Homo sapiens: one gene and its partners. The protein of the gene in region 2 purifies or fractionates together with the protein of the main gene of each other region. This does not show direct contact. Each region holds a gene or a part of one and is shown on either strand. Other genes may lie near its edges.

Region 1 (4,037 bases), on a different chromosome or scaffold from region 2:
AATAACATTAAAACAACTGGTATAGGCTTTTATGCAGCCAAAAATATATATCACTGTAGTCTATGGCGAATTTATAAAAGCCAACAGGGTATTCAAAAGGGACAAAATATAGTACTGGGTTAGAAAATAAGACATTCAAAAAACGTATTAAGCTTAGTTATTAATAAGCTCTCACTTTCTAAATTCTTTAAAATTCACAATATATTAATTCTCCTACTTGACATTTTCCAATGCTACTTCTGAAAATTCTTTTAAAATTAAATTTATTAAAAATACTATTGAGAAGGATAATACTCATATGTACATTTATGAAAACAATGCTTTTATTTTAATGTAGCATCACCTAAGATTAATTATTAAATTTTCTTCAAATAACTGATTACTTTGCAACAAATTAAAAGTATTAGAAGTTTGAAGGAAGGACAGACAGATATGTATGTTTAACATCTAAACACATTTAAAATATCACATTAAAAATCAGAAAAATTAATCTGAAACAACTATATTATACTAAATACTACTCAAAAGCTGGCTATGAAAAGAGACACATATTCAGATCACAGAGAAAATATTCAAAATAACTACTCCATGGTGATTTCTTATGTTAAACTTCTGGTTTTCTGAATGTATAAAATTGTAATTTTTATTTTATAATTATAAAACTATAAGATTATAAAATTCCATGATAAAATACAACAAAGATTTATACTATGAAGATGAAATGTCCCTAAAAGAAAATGTGATAAGTTTACACCGTTTCCTTTGTTATTTTTTCCTCTACCTTACTCACTGCACATTTAAATAGAAAGAAAGAAGATCAATTTGAATGCATTTACCTCACCAAACGGAGTGTAAAACTGCACAATGTTCACATCTTTGTCCTGCATGGCTGCCTTCTGGAAGCCTGCCACAGCTAACACGCTGCCCATGTGGTTCCACTGGATGCCTACTACGTACATGCCAGTGTCAATCAAAACGGGATCTAGTCAGAAAGAGAAAAATGAGGTCACTGTGGGAAAATACGTAGCCTAGAGAACTTTATAATCTTAAGAACAACTTTTAAACATTTTTAAAACTTTCCACATTTTTAAAAAAACAGGGCTGGGTACAACGGCTCACGCCTATAATCCCAACACTTTAGGAGGCTGAGGCGGGCGGATCACTTGAGTCCAGGAGTTCAAGATCGGCCTGGGCAACATGGTGAAACCCTGTCTCTACGAAAAATACAAAAATTAGCTGGAGGAGTTGGTGCACACCTGTGGTCCCAGCTCCTCAGGAGGCTGAGACCTTGAGCCTGGGAGGCCAAGGCTGCAGTGAGCCAAGAACGCACCACTGCACTCCAGCCTCGGCAACAGAGCAAGACCCTGTCGCAAAAAAAAAAAAGTTAAAAATTAGAAATTGAGGCCGGGCACAGTGGCTCACGCCTGTAATCCCAGCACTTTGGGAGGCTGAGGCAGGTGGATCACGAGGTCAGGAGATAGAGACTATCCTGGCTAACAGGGTGAAACCCCGTCTCTACGAAAAATATAAAAAATTAGCCAGGCATAGTGGCACGCCCTGTAGTCCCAGCTACTCGGGAGGCTGAGGCAGGAAATTCGCTTGAACCCGGGAGGCAGAAGTTGCCGTGAGCCAAGATCGTGCCACTGCACTCCAGCCTGGGCGACAGAGTGAGACTCCATCTCAAAAAGAAAAAAAAAAAAATAGAAATTAAAAAAATTTTTTAAACAGAAAAATTCCTTACTTTGGTCATTCTCATGTCTCATTATTTGGCATCTTCCATTATCAAAGCAAACAGCAAGGCAAGGGCAATCAGGCTCCACGTAGCCTTCTGTGCCATGGTACCAATGAATTCCAGCAATGCTGATAGCTCCAGTGACATTCACCAAACAACTCAGTTTCATTTTTATCTAAATAAAATTGGTTAGGTTTAATATTTTACATTTTAAAACACAGCAGTATAGAGACAATACTCAATAGAGTATTGTAGAAAGAACACTGAAAAATACAGTCTAAAAATCAGGTGGCAAATTAAAGCTTAATCACTTACTGGTATACAGGCCATGGACAAATCACCTAAATGTCCATTTTCCCCACATGTAAAAAATGAGGATTAAAAAACACTGAGTTTTTATGAGACTCAAACAACAAGTATATAAAAGTACTTTGAAAACAGCAAAATGACATAAAAGTTCATTATTTTACTTCCACCAGTGAGTGGATTTACTTAATGTCCTAACCCTTGCTAAAAAACAAAACTGCCCCACCAGTAATCATACATCTATGATAGCTAAACCTTGCAAAGCCAGAATTTTTCTCCAGATTATGCTGCCTGATCCTATTCTATTTTACCTTCTTTCCAGGGATTGATTTTTCTCACTTACCATTTAAGTCTGTCATTCTTTTTACAAACAACCATTGGTAGCTTGCTACAAAAATACCCTGTGGTATCTACATGTAAACTTTGGCTTCAGACACCAGAAGACACCTATAAAACTTAAACTGCACATCGCCCTACTCATTATCTCTCTGCTTAAATGCACTGACACCTCGTCCTTTCTACCTACCAAAAAAAATTGGAACTAAAAGCTACACTCGAACTTGTTGCACTAATTTGCCTTGAGAAAACCAAAATTTTATTTAATTAAAACAAAATTTAGACGATTGGGAAAAAGAAAAAAAATCTGAATTGAAGACTTTAATTACACAAACCGCCATAAAAAATAAATGTATATACAAACATGAATGATATGTACGATAATCATATAAAATTGTATAAACAAGACTGATGCATACACTTACTTACCATAAAATTTCCTTGATTATCGTAAATGTGTATTTCCCCATTTGCCATTCCAAAAAGTAAGACTTTACTGTCCGCAGACCATGTTACATGGGATAGCTGTATACCCTTCAGGTCTTTTCCCCAAATACGATTGCCTAAAACAAAACATTATTAAAAGTTGTTCAAGGTCATGATCCTCCAACAACGGCTTTCGAAATCTTTGTTTTTCTAAAGATCTCACAAATTCTTCACAGCATTCATGCATTCATTCAATTTATTTGGCCAATAAATATTTACTGAGCACCTATATGTGCCTGAAAAGACATCTGAAATAGCAGCTGTTTCAACCTTTCTCCCCTTTCTTCTAAACTCTGATGCTGGATCTCACTCCCAATTAGCAGTTGAGCCCATCTTCTATTTTGGAAAGAAAATAAAAGCACCCAAAAAACAAATTCCTCATTCCCATCTTCAACAATTCAGAACATAACTGAGTCCATGCTTACACTTTCTGCGTTGCCCACTAATACAAAAGAAGAGGTATTTCCCCAGTCAGTCCCCTATCCAAGGCTAATTCCTCTATGTATTCTCTGATCTAATCCCTTCCTACCTTTGCAAAGATCTCCCTTTATCGACTACTCTCATTTTCTCTTTCTCATTAAACTCTTCACTCCAGGGCCTTTCTTATGTGGATTTAAACACATGCAGATCTATTTCTCTTTGAAACCATCACCCTAAATAAAATAAACACTTTTATTAACCCCAAGTTCCCCCTCTAACTACTATTTCTACCATTCCTTTCCCAACCAAACTTCATGAAAGAGTTCTTCACACCTATAGTCTCCACTTCAACTGCCACTCAACCCTTAACCCCTCCCAATCTGGCTTCTGCCCCACAACTCCATTGAAACTGCCTACAACATACACTATTTGGGTTATGGTTATATACTAATAGTCCAGACCTCACCAATATTCAATATATCCATATAACAAACCTGCACTTGTACCCTCTAAATCTATAAAAATAATAAATAAAAAAAGAAGAAACCAAACCTGTTGACATCTTGATCTTGGACTTCTAGAGTCTAGAACTCTGAGAAAATAAATTTCTGTTGTTTAAAAAAAAGAAAGAAACTGCCTTCATGGACGTCACTGATGGCCTGTTGCTAAAGCCAATTGATACTTTTTTTTTTTTTTTTTTACCACTCCCTCCTTCTTGAACTCTCTTGGCTGCCATTAGCCCATATACTCCTTTATC
Region 2 (4,037 bases):
GTGAGTGCCAGTTGGCCCTTTTCTTTTATTTTTTAAGACAGAGTTTCGCTCTGTCGCCCAGGCTGGAGTGCAGTGACTCGATCTCGGTTCACTGCAACCTCTGCCTCCCAGGTTCAAGCAATTCTCCTGCCTCAGCCTCCCAAGTAGCTAGGATTACAGGCTTTCGCCACCACGCCCAGCTAATTTTTGTATTTTTAGTAGAGACGGGGCTTCACCAAGTTGGCCAAGCTGGTCTGGAACTCCTGACCTCAGGTGATCTGCCTGCCTCGGCCTTCCAAAGTGCTGGGATTACAGGCGTGAGTCACCGTTCCTGGCCTGCAACTGGCCCTTTTCGATCAGTGTTCTGCCCTTTCTGAAGCTCGCTGTCTTTCCATGGCTGCACCTATTTTTTTTTTTTTTTGGACAGTCTCACTCTGTCTCCCGGGCTGGAGTGCAATCTCAGCTCACTGCAACCTCCGCCTCCCAGGTTCAAGTGATTCTCCTGCCTCAGCCTCCTGAGTAGTTGGGATTACTGGCGTGCGCCACCACACCTGGCTAATTTTTGTATTTTACTAGAGACAGGGTTTCACCACGTTGGCCAGGCTGGTCACGAACTCCTGACCTCAAGTGATCTGCCCACCTCAGCCTCCCAAAGTGCTGGGATTACAGGCGTGAGCCACCATACCATAAGCTGTATTTTAATGGCCATGTCCATGTCAAGTCAAATCCTCTGATTTGATGAATGGTACACACACACACATGCACGCACGCACGCACGCACGCACACACACAAGTCTCTGCCAGCTTAATCACCACCAGGAAAAAGAGCTTCTGATTGGGTGGCAGAATTTTAGCCCCACCCTCACCAGAGGTCCGAGGCTAGCCCTCTTCTTCCAATATCCTGAGTGATTGTGCATTTTCCTACCTTTTGGAAGGCCAAGTTTTCATATACACAGTCACCATCCATTCCAGGGTTTGGTCCCATATTGGGTGACTTGTGTGCATCTCCCATATCCTGGGAGTCACTCTCACCCTCTGCACGGGTCCCTAATGTGGGGAAAAGCAAGAGAGATCAGATTGTTACTGTGTCTGTGTAGAAAGAAGTAGACATAGGAGACTCCATTTTGTTCTGTACTAAGACAAATTCTTCTGCCTTGGGATGCTGTTAATCTATAACCTTACCCCCAACCCCGTGCTCTCTGAAACATGTGCTGTGTCCACTCAGGGTTAAATGGATTAAGGGCGGTGCAAGATGTGCTTTGTTAAACAGATGCTTGAAGGCAGCATGCTCCTAAAGAGTCATCACCACTCCCTAATCTCAAGTACCCAGGGACACAAACACCGCGGAAGGGCGCAGGGACCTCTGCCTAGGAAAGCCAGGTATTGTCCAAGATTTCTCCCCATGTGATAGTCTGAAATATGGCCTCGTGGGAAGGGAAAGACCTGACCGTCCCCCAGCCCGACACCCGTAAAGGGTCTGTGCTGAGGAGGATTAGTATAAGAGGAAGGCATGCCTCTTGCAGTTGAGACAAGAGGAAGGCATCTGTCTCCTGCCCGTCCCTGGGCAATGGAATGTCTCGGTATAAAACCCGATTGTACGTTCCATCTACTGAGATAGGGAAAAACCGCCTTCGGGCTGGAGGTGGGACATGCGGGCAGCAATACTGCTTTGTAAAGCATTGAGATGTTTATGTGTATGCATATCTAAAAGCACAGCACTTGATTCTTTACCTTGTCTATGATGCAAAGACCTTTGTTCACGTGTTTGTCTGCTGACCCTCTCCCCACTATTGTCTTGTGACCCTGACACATCCCCCTCTCGGAGAAACACCCACAAATGATCAATAAATACTAAGGGAACTCAGAGGCTGGCGGGATCCTCCATATGCTGAACGCTGGTTCCCTGGGTCCCCTTATTTCTTTCTCTATACTTTGTCTCTGTGTCTTTTTCTTTTCCAAGTCTCTCGTTCCACCTAACGAACCCACAGGTGTGGAGGGGCAACCCACCCCTTCACCTAAAGGATGAAAGAAGCCTGGACTAAGCTCAGGACAGCTGGATCCCAGGAGTGTGGGACACCATCATCAGTGCTAGCCAGAGATGGCCAGAACTCCTGGGTTCTCAGTCCCTACTCATGACTCAGCGCCCTCACTTGCAACAACCTCCTCCTCCTCCAGGTGCACGGAAGTCTACAAGGGCCAGAGTTTCTGATTACCCTGGATCTAAGGACAGGGAGGGGTTAGGGTCTTTCCTTTTCCTTATCTCAGACAAAGCATCACAGAGACTGAAGATGGGGGGATGGAGTTTGGGGTGATAATAATTCTGTCATTGAAATCATTGGCCATCTCATGAAAATAAAAGGAAACGTCACCACAATGGAATATTATAAGGGAATAAAAAGGAATGAAGTACTGATAATACTACCACACGGATGAACCTTAAAATTTTATGGCCGGGCACGGTGGCTCACGCCTGTAATCCCAGCACTTTGGGAGGCCGAGGCGGGCGGATCACGAGGTCAGGAGATCGAGACCATCCTGGCAAACATGGTGAAACCCCGTCTCTACTAAAAATACAAAAAAAAAAAAAAAATTAGCCGGGTGTGGTGGCCGGCGCCTGTAGTCCCAGCTACTTGGGAGGCTGAGGCAGGAGAATGGTGTGAACCCGGGAGGCGGAGCTTGCAGTGAGCCGAGATTGTGCCACTGCACTCCAGCCTGGGCAACAGGGCGAGACTCCGTCTCAAAAAAAAAAAAAAAATTTGTTAGGTGGGCCAGGGGCGGTGGCTCATGCCTGTAATCCCAGCACTTTGGGAGGCGGAGGTGGGCGGATCACGAGGTCAGTAGTTCAAAATCAGCCTGGCCAACATAGTGAAACCGGTCTCTACTAAAAATACAAAAATTAGCAGGGCGTGGCAGCGTGCACCTGCAGTTCCAGCTACTCAGGAGGCTGAGGCAGGAGAATCGCTTAAACCCAGCCAGGCAGAGGTTGCAGTGAGCCGAGATCGTGCCACTGCGCTCCAGCCTGAAGGGGGCCTGCCCCTCCACACCCGTGGGTATTTCTCGCAAGGTGGAGACGAGCGGCTGAGAGAAGAAAGAAGACACAGAGACAAAGTATAGAGGAAGAAAAGTGGGCCCAGGGGACCAGTGCTCCGCAAGTGAGGACCCGCACCAGCGCTGATCTCTGAGTTCCCTCAGTATTTATTGATCACTATCTTTACTATCTTGGTGAGGGGAATTTGGTGTGACTATAGGGTGATGGTGGGGAGAGGGTCAGCAGGAAAACATGTGAACAAAAGACTCTGTGTCATAAATAAGTTTAAGGAAAGGTGCTGTGCCTGGATGTGCACATAGGCTGGATTTATGTTTAACTTTACATAAACATCCCAGTGCAGTAAAGAGCAGTATTGCCGCCATGATGTCTCGCCTCCAGCCATAAGGTGGTTTTCTCCTATCTCAGAATAGAATGTATGGTCGGTTTTACACTGAGTCATTCCATTTCCAGAGACGTGCAGGAGACAGATGCCTCCTTCTTATCTTAACCGCATGGAGGCCTTTCTCTCTCACTAATCCTCCTCAGCACAGACCCTTTACGGGTGTCGGGCTGGGGGACCGTCAGGTCTTTCCCTTCCCACGAGGCCATATCTCAGGCTGTCTCAGTCGGGGAAATCCTGGACAATGCCCAGGCTTCCTTGGGCAGGGGTCCCTGCAGCCTTCCACAGTGTGTTATGTTTCTGGTTAATAGAGAATGGAGAATGGCAATGACTTTCACAAAGCATACTGCCTGCAAAACCATTTTTACCAAAGCACATCCTGCCCAGCCCTAAATCCCTTAAAACTTGAGTCAATATAACACATGTTTCTGTGAGCACAGGGTTGGGACAAGAGTTGCAGATTAACAGCATCTCAAAGCAGAACAGTTTTTCTTTTTTTTTTTGGGGGGGGGACGGAGTCTTGCTCTGTCACCCAGGCTGGAGTGCAGTGGCGCGATCTCAGCTCACTGCAAGCTCTGCCTCCCGGGTTCACGCCGTTTTACTGCCTCAGCCTCCCGAATAGCTGGGACT
Region 3 (3,649 bases), on a different chromosome or scaffold from region 2:
CACACACACAGAGAAAAAGTCGGTCTGTGGATGCCAGCAGCACGAAAGCCAGTACCTAGGGGGACTCTGTCTGAGAAGGGGGCCCCCCGGTCAGCTAGTGCTGACAATTTCTCTCTGTCTCTGTAGCTACTACCCACTCTACCCGCCCCAAGAAGACATGGCCATTGACTATGAGTCGTTCTATGTTTACGCACAGCTGCCTGTCACCCCAGATGTCCTCATCATCCCGTCAGAGCTGAGGTACTTCGTGAAGGTAGGTTTGAACTCTGCTTTTTCCCAGAAACACCAGAACCCAGTCTTTGACTTTCCCTTCTAGACCACCCGGCACTCACCCCTCATGGGTCAGCTGATGGGGATGGGGCCTCTAGCACCCTGCCCTGTGGCCTTGTTTCTTTGGGGAGGTGGTGGGACCAGAAAACAAACAACTCTGTCAGTAAAATGCTTGAGTAAACAGTGTCCTCTCCTCCCTCCCCAAGAGAACGAGAGCCCAGATGACTAGGAAGGCCCTCAAATGAGGGCTTTCACCAGGCCACATAGAGGTGACCTGGGGAAGATTTCATATGTACACTTGCCTGTCCTCTGCCTCCCAAATTCTGATATGACCTCCAAGTGGGCTCAGCTGGGAATACCTTGAAGAAGCTATTGGGTCATTTTGATCTCTGCCACCCTTTAGCCCTGCCTGCCTTGGAGTTAGGTCCCTTACAAGGAATCTGCCTAGACCAGTCCCCCTCTTGCCAAACAAGAGTTAGTTCAATCTCAAGAGGTTAAAAAAAAGTTTTTCACATGAGAAAGCAGTAAACAGCTAGATCAGGTTTGTCTCCAAGTTTAGGAGCTGATTGTCATTCTGCCAAGTCACCTCATTCTTCTGTTTGAAAGACTTAAAAGGAATTCAAAGCTTTCTAGTGACAAGTTAACATATGTGACTGAGGCCGGGCGCAGTGGTTGACAATTGTAATCCCAGCACTTTGGGAGGCCGAGGTGGGTGGATCACCTGAGGTCAGGAGTCTGAGACCAGCCTGGCCAACATGGTAAAACCCCATCTCTACTAAAAATACAAAAATTAGCCAGGCATGGTGGTGTGGGTGCCTGTAATCCAAGCTACCTGGGAGCCTGAGGCAGGAGAATCGCTGGAACCCGGGAGGTCGAGGCTGCAGTGAGCTGAGATCTCACCACTGCACTCCAGCCTGGGCAACAGAGCGAGACTCCATCTCAAAAAAAAAAAAAAAAAAAGTGACTGAAAATGTGTCTGGTGATTTGGTTGCCTTCGTTTCCATTTTCTAAAACCCTCTTTGGGGTCCAGCCATGTGATGGCACTTCTTTTTCACATTGGTTCCCAGTTAGTTGAGGCTCTCCAAACCTGTCACCTCTCCTCTCCTCCCCAGGATGTCCTCGGCTGTGTCTGTGTGAACCCTGGGCGCCTTACCAAAGGGCAGGTGGGAGGCACCTTCGCCCGACTCTACCTTAGGAGGCCGGCAGCGGACGGGGCAGAGAGGCAGAGCCCATGCATTGCTGTGCAGGTCGTCAGGATCTGAGGCTTCTGTCCTCTGCTGTTCTCTGCTGTGTGGGCCCTTAAAGTCTTAGCCAAGAGCCAAGACATAGCCCTGTGACAAGGTGAACAGTTGGGTGGGAAAGGAGAGAGGAGCCAGCCAGGGAGGGGCAGCTGCAGTGACCAGGCCCAGCAGGGAGGACTTGTGCAGCCGGGCCTGCCTCTGAGTGGTGCCTCTCCTGGAAGGAAGCTCTTGCTTCTCAGTCCATGCTCCGTGTCCAGAAGTAAGCCAGCTGTGGATCCCGCCCACTCAGAAAAGGCGAGAAGGCTTTGTGATTTTCTACATGAATCAAACACAGAAACAACTTTTGGAGAAATTAAATTCTGAGTGTGACTTCTGAGTTTGACCTTTCTTCTATTTTCTTTTATTTATTTATTTTGTTTTTAGACGGAGTCTCGATCTGTCGCCCAGGCTGGAGTGCAGTGGTGAGATCTCGGCTCACTGCAAGCTCTGCCGCCCGGGTTCATGCCATTCTCCTGCCTCAGCCTCCTGAGTAGCTGGGACTACAGGCACCCACCACCACGCCTGGCTAATTTTTTGTATTTTTAGTGGAGATGGGGTTTCACCATGTTAGCCAGGATGGTCTCGATCTCCTGACCTTGTGATCTGTCCGCCTCAGCCTCCCAAAGTGCTGGGATTACAGGCGTGAGCCACCGCGCCCGGCCCCTTTCTTCTATTTTCTTTATCCTGGTAGTAGACAAAGAATGTTGCCTATTTGACCTATGTCCAGAGAAGGCAGAGTGTCAGTCACACTGGGTTTCTATCCAGCCCCAGTCCTGTCCAGTGGGTAACTCTCAGCCCCACTCCTCATCCCCCAAAGGCCCCAGTGACCTCTATGCTGCAGAGGTGCACTGGGTGGGCCCTAGAGCTGGGCTGCAGAGCAAGCAACTGGCTGCATGCCTGGGCCTCCCTGCGCAGTTCCTCACATGCATGCTGTGGTCCCAGCCTGACCTCTCCATCTGGAGGGGGCCGCCTCGCTGGGCTGTTCCAAAGCTGGAGTCCTGGTGGCAGCTGCTTTGCCAAGTCGCGCAGTAGCCAGGGCTTGCCTGCAGCCCAGAACACTCAGACAGGGTCAGGCCTTCCAGGGTTCACAGCACGTCCCATGCCCCTATGTCCTGGCATCTGGGGAAAAGCTGTCACTGGCCAGACGTGGAGTGGCTTCCTGCCCTAAGCTGGCAGGCTGTCCTGCCTCACATGCCAGAGCCAAGACCGGCAAACCCCAGCTGTCAGGGCAGGGAAGTGGGCAAGGGGGCAGCAAGCTGCTGGTGTCTATGCCTTGACTCCGAGATAAATAGATGACCTAACAGTGGCCAACTTTTGCCTCTCACCTTTCTGACGGTGAAATGGAATCGAGCCCCAGACCTGACCAGGGTACAGTAAAAGGTCTTCCTTTAAACACAAGGAGCAGCTGTTTTATTTCATTAGTTTTATAGGCACCTCCTCTGAGGCCAAGAATTAGAAACTCATCCCTGCGTGGGGAGTGGATTTTTCCGTTCTCCCCCAGCTCCTCCACACATGAAGCAGCCAGCTGTGTTCCACGGGGGCACCATGACTTGTCAGCCTCCGGATGTGGAATTTTGGGAGCCCAGGCAATGGTTGCCTGGATACCAGTCGTGTGACTGTTGGAAATGATCTGGGAGGGCCGGGAGGGCCGGAGCAGGCATTTAAGAGTCAGACAAAGAGAAAGCGGGATGCTAACACCAGAGCAGACAGGTCTGGCAGGCGTGCCTCTGCCACCAGACAGTTCCTTTTTGCTCTTGTCAGGAAGGTGCCAAGTGACTGCTGGCTGACCGTCCCTAGACCCCACTTCAGCTGTGTCACCAGTTTCCCCAGGCATCTGTCATCCCAGGTATTCTCAAGCAGGCTCTGGGGGCGTGTCAGTGACGGAGGGTGGGAGGGTGCCCAGGAGGTCAGGCCCGTCTGCCTCAGCCCCCTTTGGTGGCCTCTCCCTGATCTGGTCATGGCCCCTGCCCTTGAGACACCAACTAGACGGTCCTGAAGAAATAGTCCCGAGCTCTTGCCAGGATTTGCCTCCCATGCCCATGCCCTTGCCCTGCCTCTGCCCTGGCAGAAGGAGCCGCCCTCCCTTACCCGCCTCGTGG
Region 4 (4,037 bases), on a different chromosome or scaffold from region 2:
TTTTTCTTTATACGTCTCCTTTTTCTTTTTACTAAACAAATGTTACTTGTCTAAAATGAAAAATTTTTGTTAAAATCACATTATAGAAAGCTTAGAAAACAGAAGGAAAAAATTGCCATAACCACCTGCCCTAAATGTACATTCTTATTTGTTTTCCTTCCTTAAGGGAGCTCCTACCTCCTCCCATGTCCTGGTTGGGTGTTGCCTTGGTGGCCTAGCCCAGTGCCAGGGCTCACAGGAATGGCTTGTGCTTGTCTATGTTTATCGCAGAGGCCGGTGCTGTGAGTCAGAGCTGGTCATTCCCGAGTGACTGATGGTGGAGGGAGGGGACAGCAACCTGGAAAGCTGTGATCACCTTTGTGTGCTAGCAGAGTACTGTAAAATATTAAAATATAGGATTGGCCGGGTGCAGTGGCTCACACCTGTAATCCCAGCACTTTGGGAGGCTGAGGCGGGTGGATCGCTTGAGACCAGGAGTTTGAGACCAGCCTGGCCAACATGGCGAAACCCCATCTTTACTAAAAAATACAAAAATAAGCCAGGCGTGGTGGCACGCACCTGTAATCCCAGCTACTCAGGTGGCTGAGGCAGGAAAATTGCTGGAACCTGGGAGGCGGAGGTTGCATTGAGCCAAGATCACGCCACTGCACTCCAGCCTGGCTGACAGAGTGAGACCCTGTCTCAAAAAAAAAAAAGAAAAAGAAAAAGAAAAAAAAAAGATAAGTTTTTAGTGCTTAGACTTTTTCAGATGGGCTCCTGAAAAGATGCCTATGAAATGAAATGATCATATGTCAAATTATATTTCCTAGCTATTGTCATAATTTCAGGGTTCTGGTCCCATAGGAAAAGGGAGGGGGAAAGACCAGACTCCATAAAAAGCACATATGGGATTTCTTTCAAGGGTCTCTCTTTATAGGATGTAGTTTCTGGACATGTAATTCTCTCACCTGCCACTTCCAAGAAGTCTCCCTTAAAAGAACTAGGCAGCGTTTGGGCTGGACTATGGATTGATTGGTGGGAAGAACCCACATGCACTATGGGGTTAGATTAGGTTTTCAATCTCATTGGCCAGGGAAATCAGGTCGTATTGAATGCAAGTCAGCTGAGCTTAGATGTAGCAGCTCAGCACATCTTCCTTTGGTCCCAGAGTCCCCAACAGAGGCACCAGCTGCATGTGACACTGTCCCCACAGATGCTCGCCCAGACCAGGAAAGCTCTGTATTTGCCACCTTTGTCTATCTGTCCTAGTGGCTCACACCACCATTCTGGAAGAATTTGTACAACAATCCAGGTACTTCATTCACAAAGAAGTGTTTGCAAACAGCCGGTGTTCCTGGATCTTAACCTACCTACCGGCAAGGATACTTCCTTACCTGGGGGACAAAGCAGAGGCCATGCCCAGGGAACCCTCTGCTTACGGATTCCAGCACTCTCCCCTGTTTCCTCATTGTCAATTTTTAAAATTAATTTTAATATACGTTTTTAATTTATGAAAAATAAATTATCACATATTAAGATATGCAATCCAGAGGCATAAACTAGGGGGAGGTTGAATGTTGAAGCAGCCACCCTGGATATGCCATGGTTTGAGGCATTCGAGAAGCCTTCTTCATCAGAAAGGGCAGCATGGAGAGTTTTTCTAAGCTAGATTCAAGCAGTGCAAAGGTTGACCCACTCTAAACCTGATTCTGAGGGCTTGGTGGCTCTTGAAGGCTTGGTGGTCAGCTGGTCGGTTTTTCTATCCTTTCTACCACATTAATGTTGATTTAGGAAACGATGTCTGTTTGAACCCAATGAACACCACTAAGCTTTTTCCTCCTCCTGGTGGCTTCAAAGGCAAAGGGAGACCTAAGTCAGGTGTTCTTGTAGGAACTGCACATACCGCAGGGAGCAACTGGACCCCTGTGGCCAGAGGGAGCCAACAGGTGAGTGCAGAGTGATCAGCAGGCAGGTGAGAAACCCAGGTGGTGGGAGAGAAGACACATTCCCAGCTTATACATAATGGGGCTGCTGCCATGATGCACAGAAGCCAGACGTCTTTTTGTAAGATTGCCTCTGTAGCCTTTTTTATTAATCTTTCTTAAAAAAGAGATGAAACTTGTGCTTAGAGGCTATATTCTTTGGCCTCTTTGGGAATAATTAATTGCTTTCTCTGTATAGGTAGAGTATAAATGTGAAGGTTTCCTGGAGAAAAACAGAGACACCGTCTATGACATGCTGGTTGAAATCCTGAGAGCAAGCAAGGTCTGTAAAGTCCTAGGGGTAACTAAAGTTATTATATAATTGACATGGATCTAGATGTATATAAGGAAAGAGTAAGGAGAGAGAGAGAGAGAGTGTGTGTGTGTGTGTGTGTGAACTCTCTGGACAGTGGTAAGTTGTAGCTCACAGATTCAAAAAGATAACTACTGTAAATCTCTACTATATGCAAAATCAGAAATCAAACATGCAGATGACAGGAAGGACAGCTAATAGAACCATTGAAGAATCACAATTCCAGCCAGACGTGGTGGCTCACGCCTGTAATCCCCGCATTTTGGGAGGCAGAGGCGGGTGGATTGCTTGAGGCCAGAAGTTTGAGACCAGCCTGGCCAAAAAAGCAAGACCCTGTCTCTTCTAAAAATATAAAAAAACATTAGCAGGGAATGGTGACATGCCTGTAGTCCCAGCTACTTGGGAGGCTGAGGTGGGGAAGACTGCTTGGCCCTGGGAGATAGAGGCTGCAGTGAGCCATGATTGCGCCACTGCACTCTTCTTCTGGGCAGCAGAGCAAGACCCTGTCTCAAAACAAAACAAAACAAAACAAAATATGAAATTCACTCTGAGAGAAGATAAGACATTTAAAGAAATAACTGATACAAAGCAGAAGGTAGTAAGTGCTTTAAATGAGGTACAAATACAAGATGAAGACGGTTCAGAGAAGTTGGGATTAATTCATTCATTGCGAAGTGGGTGGGGCTGGAAAACATTTTAAGAGATTCCTGGGTAGGGTTTGGATCTGCAGGGATGAGAATGTGGAGTAGGAGGGAGGAGATTGCAGGTGGAGACACAGTGTGAGCCAGGCACGGAGGTGAGAATAGTAGATGTTTCCACTTTCTGACACTTAGAGTGATACCCACATACAGACATTTACACACTTTTCTTCTCTGTTCCCCTTCTCGGGAAAGAAGTCACGGGCCATCCCTATGAAAGACGATCGTCTTGTGGAATTGAGATTTGGCTGTAGATGTTGGTGAGGTTGTTCACCGCCCACTAGTTTAGCTGAGTTGTTGTCACCATTTACGTGGCTTGTATGAGTGAGTACTGTGGGCAGTTGCTTTTGGACATTGAGATCCTCTCTGTTCCTTCCAGTTTCATCTCTGTGCCAACTTTTTTCAAGAAAATCCAACTCCTCCTTCTCCTTTTGGTTCAATGATTACAGTTAAATCTGCAAAGCAAGTCATCAAGCCAAACAGCAAGCATTTCCGGACCACAGTTGGGAGCAAGGTACTGAGAAGGTGTTTGAGAGTGAGGGGTCTAAAGGCAGGGCCAGGCCCTGGGGAGCCAGGGCACTCAGAGGACCCGCATTCCAGGCCTGGACATGGACAGACGCTGGGGCTCTTCCAATCTAACATGGACTCCACTGCAAAAAGTTCATCGTCGTCATACTTCCACCTCCAAGGCAGCACGCACTGGAGCAAACCACGCTCTTGCACAATAACATGGTTTATTCAGTTCTCTGCTGTCTGGGAGTATTAGTGTTCTGTCCACAACAGTAGGACATGCTGATAAACCACAGTCACGGACTGAAACCTTTCATAATAGGTGTTTATGCATGAGGTTAACTTTTCTTCCTATTGAGTAACTTAACAAGGTTGGGCTGCTTTTTACCGTGATGTAAGCAGTAAATTATTTCAGAGCCATGTTTGATCTCTAGCTTTGTTTCCTAGTTCCGCAGCTCTCTGTACTTGCTCATGGAGACCCTCAATGCGACGACGCCCCACTACGTTCGATGCATCAAGCCAAATGATGAGAAGTTACCCTTTGAGTAAGTGTTC
Region 5 (4,037 bases), on a different chromosome or scaffold from region 2:
ATGAAATGCCATAAATAGGAATTCCGTGGTTACACAAGGCCCCCCCCACAAAACACAAACTTCATCTGGGCAAGAAACACATTCTGACAGTTTAACTCTTTATTCTCCTTCACAGCCCAGCAGACCCCAAGGCGGGCAGAGGGTGCAGGCCGTCCCCAGGATGCTGGTCATGGGCCAGGGTCATCCTTGCACCTGCGGCAGTAGGGGCAGCAGCCATGCTGAAGCACCAGCAACTCATAGTCCTCAGAATGGAACATCTAAGGGAAGACAGCTGTAAGACCAGGCTGAAGCCCTAGTGCTCATCAGCCCTACGCCTGGGGCCAGGACGCACTGCCTCTCAAGGGGAGGGGGCTTGGCAGTGGTCAGGGCTGGACACAGACCTGCAGCACCTTTGTTTGAGGGCTGGAAGGGGAGATGGGAGGGGGCTGTGGGGTTTCTTGTTTTCTGAGTGAAGGTCAAGGGCACATCACGCTTGCTGGGCCCCCAGGATTTGGGGAGGATGTGGACAGCGCAGGGGCCAGTGAAGTCCACTTTAGATGCACATGGAATGCAAGCAGGGGAGAGGACAGACAAGCCTCTGTCCCAACTTGGAGCCATGGATGTGCCCCTCCTCCCAGGGGCCACGCCTCCCAGAGGGACATTTGGGCAAGGGAAAAGTGGCCAAGAGAAGCACATGTGAGCTACCAGGGTGGCCACCTACCTGGAAGCAGGAGGGGCACATGGTAATGGAGGCGTCAGGCAGCAGTGAGCGGAAGTATTGCCACCTCAGGGGTGGGGGCCATCGCTTGATGAGGACATCCCGGCGGCTCATGGAGCGCAGCACCAGCCGGCTCACCACCACTGGCACGAACTCTGAGCCACCTTGCTGCAGGGTGGGCGGGAAGGAGGCACAGTGTCCTCACTCAGCCACAGTGAGACATCTGTGTGGATTATGATCCTGGAATCTTTGGCAGTGGTGAGAGAGGACCTGCTTCCTAAACCCAGGTGACCCTAACAGTGGCAAGCTCCTCCCACCAGAGCTGAAGCTGCCTCCCTGTCCACAGACCTGCGCCCTTGGCCATGGTCCCTCGGGGGCAGCCATGGCTCCCACACCCCACAGGAAGGGGTCCTGCCCCTCCTTCGTGCCACCACATCTGGAAGTTCTGGCCAATCCTCCTCCACCACTGCGCTAGCTGAGGGTCCCCATGTGCACAGGAGAAGGGATGGAGGCTGCCCTCCTGCAGGTCACCCAGAGAGGCACCCTCACCTCAAAGCTCAGCTTAGCTGTGAACGGGTCCTCATCTCCGATGGAGTCCTTGGTCTCCACTAGCCGCAGAATCTGGGAGCCTGGAGGGATCTGGTCAAGGATGGAATCAGAAGCAGAGATGGAGACAGACCCTAGCCTCCACCCTACACCCCTGTGAGAAGACTCAAGGGCAGCCAGACCAGTGGAAGAGTTTTCCAGGTGGAGGAACAGAGGGGGCTCAGGCCAAGGAATCAGAAGGAAGGGACTCTGCTGGCCCTGCTGCCCTCACCCATTCCCCTCGCAGGCCACACACACCATAGCTCCCAGGGCCAGTGGGAAGCACATGCGGGCCCTGTGAGCCACTGCGGGTAGGCACGGAGGGGATGGGCCCAGGGATCCTGGAGAAACATTCAGTGGCTGCTGGGGGTCTGCGGGCACTTGTGATGGAGCAGACAGGGGCGAGAGTCCCTGCTGACCCCAGGGCGGGTCAGACTCACCTGGAGGTCCCTGGAAACCGCCCCTCTCCCACAGTGGTGGGGCTGGTAACAGAGGCCAGCAGGGGTCCTGCAGGGAGGCCCAGGACATGGGGACTGCTGGTACCAAGTTGGAGTGGGCACAGCACCCACCTGCCAGCACCATAGCACATATCATCTGTGGCACCTGAGGGAGCCTGGGTGGCAGAGATGGGTCCGTCTTTCCTTCAGCAAGCAGCTCTCTGAGCTTCCCTCCTCCCAGTGTGGCCCCTGGGGGTGGCAGCACCTGGGAGCTGCAAGGAAGGCAGGCTTACAGCCCCCAGGCCTGCAGACTCAGTCAGTGCAAGGGAGCGAGGCCTCAGGCCACGTGTGTGCTGTTCCCTGCCAGAAGCCCCTCCCATGTCCAGCCTGCAAGTGTGGCCTGCCCTGGACAACTGCCCTGGTGCATCCTCCTGGCCAAGGGGCAGGCTGAGCTGTGCCCCGGGGCTTTCACTGCCACAGCTGAGAGGAAAGCTGGCTGTTTCTGGGGGCTATAAGGCTGAGGGGATGTGGGGCTGGCACTGCTCCTGACATCTCTGTGTTATGGGGGCACCACGGGGCTGCCAAAGAATGAAGTTGCCCAGAGGACAGTGCGGCCAAGAGAGGCAGAGCCAGCCTGTGACCGACCAGACTGAGCGCTGGGCCAGGAAGCTTCCTCTCCTGCTTGGGGCTTCCTTGCACACCCTTTGCTTGTTCAGCTTGTCAGTTTTGGACTCTGTCACTTGCATGCGAAAGTGACTTGAGTGGAAGAGCTGGGGGCCAACACCGACATCATGACATCATGTCCCATGTTGGCTATGCAGGAGCTATGCACAGACAGAGGCACAGCCAGTGCCTTTTAGGGGTCAGGGGAGGGTGGGAGACCCACACGGGAAGACCAAGGTGCCACTTGCCACTTCTGGGTCCTTAGGCCCTGGCCAGCTGTCTGCCCATCTCTGATCCCTGTCCCTGTCCCATGTGGGCCTCTCCAATCTCTCTGGGAACACAGGGCCAGGCTCAGCATGGCCCGCGATCCCCTGGGACTGGGCCCTCCTACTTCCCGCCTGTCCCCAGACCCCTCACACAGCCGCACACACAGGCTCTGGCCAAGGGCATGGATACTGTTGTTTGCAATCTCTAGCTGTCTGTCATCCCGCTTGGGTCTCAGCACCTCCAGGTCGATGAGGGAGATGGCTTCTTCATCAGTGATCCCTTCCTCCAGGTAGAACTCAACCAGGTGTAGCACGTCTGGAGGGCATAGAGAAAGGGCTGAGGGGGCTGGAGGCCTTGCAAAGGACTTGCCGCCAGGCAGGTGGGGTGACCACAGAGTTGCTTCTCAACCCACTGGCAGCTTCACCAAAAGCAAGAAGAGGCAGCAGGGGCAGTCTCTGTATGTGTGTGCAGGAGCAGTCTCTGTGTGTGTGTGTGTGTGTGTGTGTGTGTGTGTGCAGGAGCAATGTGTGTGTGTGCAGGGGCAGTTTCTGTGTGTGTGTGTGTGCAGGGGCAGTCTGTGTGTGTGTGTAGGGGCAGTCTCTGTGTGTGTGCAGAGGCAGTCTCCGTGTGTGTGCAGGGGCAGTCTCCATGTGTGTGTGCAGGAGCGGTCTCTGTGTGTCTGTGTGCAGGGGCAGTCTCTGTGTGTGTGTGCAGGGGCAGTCTGTGTGTGTGTGTGTGTGTGTGCAGGAGCAATCTGTGTGTGTGCAGGGGCAGTTTCTGTGTGTGTGTGTGTGCAGGGGCAGTCTGTGTGTGTGTGTGTAGGGGCAGTCTCTGTGTGTGTGCAGGGGCAGTCTCCGTGTGTGTGCAGGAGCGGTCTCTGTGTGTCTGTGTGCAGGAGCGGTCTGTGTGTGTGCAGGGGCAGCCTCTGTGTGTGTGTGTGTGCAGGGGCAGTCTCTGTGTGTGTGTGCAGGGGCAGTCTCTGTGTGTGTGCAGGAGCGGTCTCTGTGTGTCTGTGTGCAGGGGCAGTCTGTGTGTGTGTGTGCAGGGGCAGTCTCTCTGTGTGTGTGTGTGTGTGTGTGTGTGTGTGTGCAGGAGCAATCTGTGTGTGTGCAGGGGCAGTTTCTGTGTGTGTGTGTAGGGGCAGTCTCCGTGTGTGTGTGTGTGTGCAGGGGCAGTCTCTGTGTGTGTGCAGGGGCAGTCTCTCTGTGTGTGTGTGTGTGCAGGAGCAATCTGTGTGTGTGCAGGGGCAGTCTCTGTGTGTGCACGCAGGGGCAGTCTCCATGTGTGTGTGCAGGGGCAGTCTCCATGTGTGTGTGCAGGGGCGGTCTCTGTGTGTGTGGGCAGGGGCAGTCTGTGTGTGTGTGCAGGGGCAGTCTCTGTATGTGTGT
Region 6 (4,037 bases), on a different chromosome or scaffold from region 2:
GATTCTCATAGGAGCGTGAACCCTATTGCAAACTGCGCATGCGAAGGATCTAGGGTGCACTCTCCTTATGAGAATCTAACAAATGCCTGATGATCTGAGATGGAACACTTTTATCCCAAAACCTTCCTCCTCTCCATCCATGGAAAAATTGTCTTCCATGAAACAGGTCCCTGGTTCCAAAAAGGTTGGGAACCGCTGCCTTAAAGAATAGCCCCTGTTATTTCTAAAGCTGGTTGGTGGAGTATCATTCTTTATACCTTGTAAACATATTCCAAGATAAATGTGAAAGGGAGAAAGACACTTCTTGGGCAGTAAGGCTGGGCCTCAAGGAAAACCTCACAGCCAAGTGAAAAACTCTAGGACCTACACATCCTTGTGAATCAAAGGCTGACTTGTCCTGCTGGGTTTGGGGCTGGAGTTCCTGGGAACAGAGTGATTTGGCAAATTGAATCACAAAGAAGGCTGCTTTCCAGAGCCTTGACGCCCCAGTTAGAAGACAGTCTCTTTGGGCTTTCCCTTGCCCTTGCTCCTATGCTCTGTGAGGGTAGAGGCCAGCCCACTCACCTCTCTCTGTATTGTCCCCTTTCCTGTCACAGGGAGCTGCAGTGTGTTGTGGAAGGAGCCATGGACCACAGGGCTGGGGTCCAGGCCATGTCAGCCTCCCATCTGCCAAGGGACCCTGAATGGGCCAGTGTAGCCTGCTGAGACGCAGGTACTTGTGAGCTATTTTGAGATCAAAACAGCTCCTCTACCTATCCTTCTACCTGCCCACTCCAACTACAGTGGTGTGATGAGTTGATGTGATAATAGGCACAAAAAAAGCACTTTATAAACTGTATAGTACAGTGCAAATGAGAAAGACTGTCATTACAGTTATTATTACTCCTTCCAGGTCAGATCCCAGTTTCTTAGGAAGCAACTGACCATGTGTTAAAGGCTGTTCATTTGGGAAAGCCATTCACTGTGGGAAGCTCAGGGACTTGCTGCCTTGGCCCATGCTGAGAGGGAGACAGATATGAGGGGATTTTAAAAAGGTGTGTATATCTATACAAACTCCTCTGCTAAGAGGTTTGAAAAGCCCTCTCTGTGTGTTGTGGGAGACAGATGAATTACGCAGGGTGTCCCTGGGATGGAGTTTCTCTCCGTCCAGTTCAGGCCCTTCTCCTAACCAAGTCCAGAGTCATCTTTGCTGGCAGATACCAGCCTTAAACTGGTACTCTGTGTTCTCTCTCCCAGAGCCATGTCCCCCCACAGTCATTCACAGTATCTCTGCCTATGTCACCCAGAACACTGGGAAGGAAGGTGGCAGGGTCACCCATAGCTGGTAGCTCCCTAGCGTAGCCCCACCTAGCTACCTCTGCCTTAGGCCTCTTCTCCATACTCTTTGCTATCCAACCAGGTGCCAAAGCTATCCTTCCTCAATGGGTTATGCTGCCTTTACTTAGGACCACAAGAGTTCACCAAGAGAGTGAGGTGGGGCAGAAAGCAAAGGAGACAGCAAAGGACAGACTCTGCAGATCCCCTAGGCTGGGACTGGCTTTCCCTGGGGGTCCTGTCAAGAAAGTGGCACTGCCAAATGCAGGGCCCCACAACCCTCATGTTCCTTAACCAGTGTGGCTGAGTTTCAGGTGGGCTGGGGGTTAAGAGAACCCTCCCAAGCCACTCTGTGGTCCCTTGCAGGGACTGCCTGCTGCAGCAGCTGCTATCATGGCAGAAAGCAGGCTGTGGTAGAAAGCGCTGGGGCCATTCCAGCTCCCTGAGCCAGATTCAAGCCATTCTGGGGCCAGTGGAAGGCTGGCTACAAAGGAAGAGCTTCTTCCTTCTCCTCTCCACTTAAAACATAGGCAGGAGGCCAGCCACATACCTGCCCTAGAGACCCTTCTCAAGGAGAAGGGACAGCTGCAATATGAGCCTTGCACATTCTGCTCCAAATCAGCTTCCCGGGGCCAGCATGGCCAACTTGAAGAGGGCTGAATTGGGGGAAGAAAAAGAAGCAAGTGGATTTATGCAGTAGCTCCAGAGACATGGCCTTGACCAGCCATAGTTCCTCAGGCCTGTTCCAAACAGTCTTCCTGAAAGCAAGCCCACTTCAGGCCCACCTGCCCTTCTGTATGTTGGGGAGGGTTGGTTAAAGAAAAAATGGTGAGGATGGCCCTCCAGAGAGCTGGCCATTTCAGCGCTGGAATCAACTCTGCCCAGCTAGGGGAAATCCAGCAAGTTTTTTCCCATGTTTATGCCTCAATTTCCTTAACTGTAAAATGAGGTCATTGAGAGTGCCTACCTCTTAAGGCTATTGTAAGAAGTAAAACCAATGCACATAATGTACCAAATCAAGTGCATTACATAGCAGAAGCTAAAAACATTATAGTAACCAACTTTTATTCATATTTTATTCAAACTGTGGTAGAACAATTTCTAGAAGTAAAATCATCTCAGTCAGGTTGAGTAGGGTGCTCCCTAGGGCTCTGTGGGTAAGTCACCAAACCTCCTTGGGGCTCAGTTTTCCCAAATGGCAAATGGTAAATGAAGATAACTGTGTGGTCATGTCATAGGAGGCTTTACTTGCTCATTTAGCCAACTTTTGATATTCAGGGACCTAAAAGAGTCAGCTACTGGCTAGCAGCCAAGGATTATCTGGGACTTTCAACTAGCCAGGTTCTCTAGCCCAGGTCAAACTCAGCTAAAAGTACCAACATCAAAGGAAATGCAAATCAACAGATATCCTTCACCCTCAGGGTATTTACCACTTTATAAAGCACTCCCTACTCCCATACCCCCCCATTTGCCCTCCTCAGCCACCCATTACTCAGGCCTGGTGGGGGATGGCAACTCCTTGTCACAGAGAAGGAAACTGTGCCTAGACTTGGGAAAAGACTTGTCCAAGGTCACATAGTGAAATGGTGACAGAGCCACACTAGCTCCCAGAACTGTTGAGTCTCAATTTCATGCCATTCTGCTGCACTGTGCAGGCCACCAATCAAAGGAGGAAGACTGAGCAAGAGAACTGCAAAGTTTACCCTCACACCAGCAAGAACTATAATCTCCCAATCCCATCCCACCTCTGTCCCAGCCCTGCTAAGCCTTCTTTGCCACATTTCCAGTCCTCACTGGTTGCCACTGTTTGGGTCCTACCAAACACATTCCAGGAAGCCTGCTGACATCAGAATCTAGGGGCCAACAACCCAGCCTGTGGCTGCTCTCCTCATCAGCAACCCTACCACCACTCCTCTCAAACTACAGGACATGTCACTCTACTCCCCTTTTCCTTAAGAGATAGGTTTGAGTGGCCCAAAAACGAGAAACCTGCCAACGTGGACAAAGATGCAGAATTTGAGCTATTTGAAGAAAATGACTTATCAGATGATCTGGAACTTGAATGATCCATTTTTAACACCCATAGCCAAGTACTGCCCTCAAAACTATTTGGTCAGAGCCTAAAGGAAGGGCTGCTTGGCTTGGTTGGCTGATGGAGTTGTAGATGCAGCTGGCAGAGCCCCTTCAGCTCCTCCCCTAATTTGCAGCCTTCCTGCTGAGGGGCACCTCCTGCCCAGAGGGCATCTCACCAACTCCAGATGCAGCAAGACCCCAAATTGGGACTTCTCTCTCCTGTCCCAATTCCCCCACCAGCCCCTCTCAACTGATTTGTTTACATACTGAGCTTTGTATAATTCATCCTGACGGGCTTTGGTCTGTTCATTCATCTCTCTCAAATTGACCCTCCTTCATCTTACAGTCACTACAACTAGCACACAGCAGGAGCTCAAACAATGCTGATTCAACTGAATTCTAATTCACCTGAAGTTTCTTGGTGCGGAACTGGAATGCCAGCCTCACCTTCTATAGGCTGTGTGGTTTGAGAAAGTGGCCTAACCTCTCTGACACTCAAATGCCTTATCTGTAAAATGAAGAAAATGCTATCTACCATGCAGGATTGTGGTAAGGATTAGAGATGATCAATGTAAAAGCAAACTGGTAACTACATACTAAGCAGATATTCAATAAAGGGCTCTTGTGATGAGGCCACTTGTAGGCACCTT
Region 7 (4,037 bases), on a different chromosome or scaffold from region 2:
CCACATGGCAAACAGCAACTACCATTTATGAAGGGCAATGTGCCAAGTGGGGTGCCATGCAACTAACAGGCATCAACTTATTCCACCATGCTCCCTAAACCCCATTTTTACAGAAGGAATAGAAGCTTGGAGAGGTTAAGTGACCTGCACACAGCTCATAGACAGAGTGCTGGGGTTCAAACACAGGTTCAGAGGCTACTGGATCCAGATCCGAACCCAGCCTGGAAAGACAGAGGGGTCAAAAGCCCTAGAGGCTCAGCCCTCTCCAAGTGACCAACATCAGGGGTCGCATATTCACCAGTGGCTACGGGGGCTGAGGGGAGCCGGAGCCGAGGACCAAGGTCCTTGTCACTCTCCTTGTCTGGGCATGGGCTGGGCAGCTTCTTCTTGCTGGAATCCAGCCTCAGCAGCTCCCATTCTCCAGAAGCTGCCTCAGGGCCCGGAGCTGGAGTCTTCCCACCTGGGGAGAGAGCAGGCCTTTTTCACAGTGCTCCCTCCCCCTGCCATTCTCTTTGTTCTTCCTTCTGTAATCCACTCCCTTAGAGTCAGCAAAAGAACATTCTTCCTGTACTTCCTTGGCAGCACTTACTGCTTGTGCTTTGCCCCAGAACAAACCCCCAAAACATGCACCTTCCACCTCACCCTTGCTGTCCTACCTGAGGCTGAGTCTTCCCCGTCAGAGCCCCTGAGGATCTCAAAGCTCATTTTTCTCCAGTTGTCAGTCAGTTCTTCCTCAGGGATGGTCCTCATGATCTCAGGGCCAGGCCTGGCCTGGTCACTGGCCCTCTGGGGACGCCGCTCCTCACAATGTCTTGATGCCACCTTCTTGGCCCTCCGGCTCCTGCCATTCAGGCCAGGGTTCCCAGGGGCACTACCTGGGGCAACCACGGCATCCGTCTTTAGGCTCAGGCCCTTCCTTGCTCGCCCCCGGCCCCGGGAAGCAGTGCCCCGTCTCTTAGGCTCCTCTGCCAGCCAGGCCTCAGCTGAGACAGGGTCTTCCAAGTCACTGTCATCACTGAAGTTCACCTGAGATCAGAGTGAAAGGGTGAAGGGCTAAGAGGTCTTCAGTGACAAGACACCTTGTGACAGCAGGTGGCGTAGTGGAGGCACCATCAGGCACCATCACACAGGACCCTGGAAGATTTCAGAACTAACTTCTCACATGACAGCCAACACTCTAGATCAGGGGCAGCGACTCTTGGGTGTGGAAGGAGGGAGAAAATGAGGGAACAGAAGGTGGGATGAAAAGGTAAAAGAAACATTAGAGTTAAGGAAAATGTCTCTGTCTGAAACAAAGGGAGACTTGGAAATAGGTCTTGCTGTGAAAGATGTTGGCCTGGCACAGTGGCTCACGTCTGTAATCCCAGCACTTTGGGAGGCTGAGGCAGGCGGATCACCTGAGGTCAGGAGTTTGAGACCAGCCTGGCCATCATGGTAAAACCCCGTCTTTACTAAAAATACATAAATAAGCTGGGTGTGGTGGCACCCGCCTGTAATCCCAGCTACTCGGGAGGCTGAGGCAAAATTGCTTGAACCCGGGAGGTGGAGGTTGCAGTAAGCCGAGATCGCACCATTGTACTCCAGCCTGGGCGACAGAGTGAGAGTCCGTCTCAAAAAAAAAAAGAGGCTGAGCATGGTGGCTCACGCCGGTAATCCCCAGCACTTTGGGAGGCCGAGGCGGGTGGATCACGAAGTCAGGAGATCAAGACCATCCTGGTTAACACAGTGAAACCCCGTCTCTACTGAAAATACAAAAAATTAGCTGGGCATGGTGGCAGGCGCTTGTAGTCCCAGCTACTCGGGAAGCTGAGGCAGGAGAATGGCGTGAACCCAAGAGGCGGAGCTTGCAGTGAGCTGAGATTGCGCCACTGCACTCCAGCCTGGGCGACAGAGCGAGACTCCTTCTCAAAAAAACAACAAAAAACAAAAAAGCAAGATATTGGGGTACTGCAGATAGCAGGAGATTAAAGTTCCACTAGGCCCTGGGGAGCTATTCCACAGGGACACCTGCTCTATAAAACACTCTCCTCCAGGACTAACCCCATCCAACACCATCACCACCACCTAGCAACAGTCCCACCTCACCTTGAGGCGCGTCTGGACTCTCTGTTGTACCCTGGGGGCCTGGGGTACTTCAGGCTTGCTCTCTGTAGGGCAGACTTCCTCAAACACCGTGAAGGGGACATGAGGGCCAGCTTGCCTGATCCGGTCTGGGGGTTTAGGTGTGCAGGGCAGTCCTCTACCTTCCAGACCTTTCTGAGAGGTATTATTGAGGCGCAGGGGAGCAGAGGCTAACTTTTGGCGCCCTCGTCCAGAACGTTTTTGGCCCTGAGTCTTAGAGGGCTCTGAGCCAGGGACACTTTTTATTAATGGTGGCTGCCAGCCCCAGGAGCTTGCAAAAAGTTGGGTAGTACAGCAGCTGAGGCCACCTAGTTTTGTGAGGGCCCAAATCAAGAGCAGGCTGGCTCGCCAGGGCTCTAGGTGGGGTATCCGTGCTGCTACAAACTTCAGCCCTGACTGTAGAACCTTCTGCAGGCTCTCGTTTGATGGCTGGTTCAGGCCCTCCAGTGCCAACAGTGTGTATGCTTGAGCCAAGATCTCATCCAAGAGGCTTGGAACCAAGGAGGGGGGTGTTTTATGATTCAGGGAAGCTTGGAGAGCTTGGGTGAGGCGCTCAGCGGCTTCAGGACAGCCCTTCAGCACGACCTGCAGCAGATCCAGACCCTGGGCTTGGTGGCCCATGGCCAGCCTCACCCCTGCCGTGACCAATACCCAGCGCAGACAGACTGCTGTGAGGACAGGGCTGGCGCAGAGCGAGCAGTCACAGGTGGGTGAATGGGACAGGAAGTTGGGTATGGGCTGGGGCTTGGTTTTCAAGACTGGGGAGGAGTTTGTAGAAGGTGCTATGGGGCCAGGCTCCTTGGCCACAGTGGCCACCAGCTCTAGAGCAGGGCCTCTTAGGAAGAGCTCCTCCTCTGGGAGCTGTGGAGGACAGGGGACCTGGGCCTGCTGCTTCCCCTTCTGCAGGTGGACCTTCTTCACAGAGTCCAGGTGCTGAGTCACCCCACCAAACTCTGGGGAGAAGGCAGAACAAGAATTACAAAACGGGGAGAAATGGCATCAAGCACTTCCTGAGCGACCTTGGGGCCCAATTCTCTAATATATGTGTTTTATATACGTACGTGTATATATATGTGTGTATATATATGTATTACTGTATAACATATCAAATATTAGTATGGCTTATTATTTTTTAGGTAAAATCTTTTTCTTTTTTTCTTTTTTTTTTGAGATGGAGTCTCTCTCTGTCGCCCAGGCTGGAGTGCAGTGGCACAATCTCAGCTCACTGCAAGCTCCGCCTCCCGGGTTCATGCCATTCTCCTGCCTCAGCCTCCCGAGTAGCTGGGACTACAGGCGCCCACCACCACGCCCGGCTAATTTTTTGTATTTTTTAGTGGAGACGGGGTTTCACCGTGTTAGCCAGAATGGTCTCGATCTCCTGACCTTGTGATCCGCCCGCCTTGGAGGTAAAATTTTTGTTTTCTTTCCAACCAACAATGGATCAAATGCAGGCCACAAAGCCCCCACACCTGCAGCTCAGGGGCCACATGGCTGAGAAAAGCAGGCTGGCCCCAGCAGGCCCACACCTGAATCCTGCCTCCTACCCTGTGATGCTGGCCCCAAACATAGACTTCTCAACTTTCTCATTTAACAAATGAAAATAATCTATGCTCCCACTCAGCTTTATGAGGTCTAGTGTGGGGCAAATGAAGTACTAGAAGTATATGTGATTGGGGAGACAAAATGTGCCATCAATGCAATGTTTTATTATTAGCTTCAGCCCTCCTGAGGATATGTTTGTGCTACTCAATACGGTAGCCACTAGCCATGTGGCTATTGAGCACATGAAGTGTGGCTAGTGTGACTGAGGACTGAATTCTAAATATTATCTTTCTTTCTTTCTTTCTTCTTTTTTTTTTTTTTTTTGAGTCAGAGTCTCGCACTGTCACCCGGGCTGGAGTGCAATGGTGCAATCT

What was found.
Region 1: the proteins of TULP2 (region 2) and WDR35 purify together in Homo sapiens (affinity purification with mass spectrometry; 2 studies listed by BioGRID and IntAct, with this or other methods). This does not show direct contact.
Region 3: the proteins of TULP2 (region 2) and POLA2 purify together in Homo sapiens (affinity purification with mass spectrometry; 2 studies listed by BioGRID and IntAct, with this or other methods). This does not show direct contact.
Region 4: the proteins of TULP2 (region 2) and MYO5C purify together in Homo sapiens (affinity purification with mass spectrometry; 2 studies listed by BioGRID and IntAct, with this or other methods). This does not show direct contact.
Region 5: the proteins of TULP2 (region 2) and IFT122 purify together in Homo sapiens (co-immunoprecipitation; 3 studies listed by BioGRID and IntAct, with this or other methods). This does not show direct contact.
Region 6: the proteins of TULP2 (region 2) and AMER1 purify together in Homo sapiens (affinity purification with mass spectrometry; 2 studies listed by BioGRID and IntAct, with this or other methods). This does not show direct contact.
Region 7: the proteins of TULP2 (region 2) and ESPL1 purify together in Homo sapiens (affinity purification with mass spectrometry; 2 studies listed by BioGRID and IntAct, with this or other methods). This does not show direct contact.

Annotation. Positions count from the first base shown.
Region 1 is NC_000002.12:19,972,727-19,976,763, forward strand, and holds part of WDR35 (WD repeat-containing protein 35), read right to left. Parts: intron 2,938-4,037; coding exon 2,804-2,937; intron 1,908-2,803; coding exon 1,742-1,907; intron 983-1,741; coding exon 837-982; intron 1-836. UniProt on the Homo sapiens protein: As a component of the IFT complex A (IFT-A), a complex required for retrograde ciliary transport and entry into cilia of G protein-coupled receptors (GPCRs), it is involved in ciliogenesis and ciliary protein trafficking.
Region 2 is NC_000019.10:48,888,606-48,892,642, forward strand, and holds part of TULP2 (tubby-related protein 2), read right to left. Parts: intron 1,027-4,037; coding exon 905-1,026; intron 1-904.
Region 3 is NC_000011.10:65,295,738-65,299,386, forward strand, and holds the end of POLA2 (DNA polymerase alpha subunit B), read left to right. Parts: intron 1-126; coding exon 127-253; intron 254-1,382; coding exon 1,383-1,532; 3' UTR 1,533-1,934; coding exon of another isoform or gene 1,935-1,976; 3' UTR 1,977-2,948; downstream 2,949-3,649. UniProt on the Homo sapiens protein: Accessory subunit of the DNA polymerase alpha complex (also known as the alpha DNA polymerase-primase complex) which plays an essential role in the initiation of DNA synthesis.
Region 4 is NC_000015.10:52,246,907-52,250,943, reverse strand, and holds part of MYO5C (unconventional myosin-Vc), read left to right. Parts: intron 1-2,160; coding exon 2,161-2,244; intron 2,245-3,351; coding exon 3,352-3,486; intron 3,487-3,929; coding exon 3,930-4,027; intron 4,028-4,037. UniProt on the Homo sapiens protein: May be involved in transferrin trafficking. Likely to power actin-based membrane trafficking in many physiologically crucial tissues.
Region 5 is NC_000003.12:129,516,396-129,520,432, reverse strand, and holds part of IFT122 (intraflagellar transport protein 122 homolog), read right to left. Parts: intron 2,965-4,037; coding exon 2,839-2,964; intron 1,327-2,838; coding exon 1,247-1,326; intron 866-1,246; coding exon 701-865; intron 258-700; coding exon 168-257; 3' UTR 1-167. UniProt on the Homo sapiens protein: As a component of the IFT complex A (IFT-A), a complex required for retrograde ciliary transport and entry into cilia of G protein-coupled receptors (GPCRs), it is required in ciliogenesis and ciliary protein trafficking.
Region 6 is NC_000023.11:64,195,577-64,199,613, forward strand, and holds part of AMER1 (APC membrane recruitment protein 1), read right to left. Parts: intron 1-4,037. UniProt on the Homo sapiens protein: Regulator of the canonical Wnt signaling pathway.
Region 7 is NC_000012.12:53,284,961-53,288,997, reverse strand, and holds part of ESPL1 (separin), read right to left. Parts: intron 3,075-4,037; coding exon 2,086-3,074; intron 1,027-2,085; coding exon 657-1,026; intron 461-656; coding exon 299-460; intron 1-298. UniProt on the Homo sapiens protein: Caspase-like protease, which plays a central role in the chromosome segregation by cleaving the SCC1/RAD21 subunit of the cohesin complex at the onset of anaphase. During most of the cell cycle, it is inactivated by different mechanisms.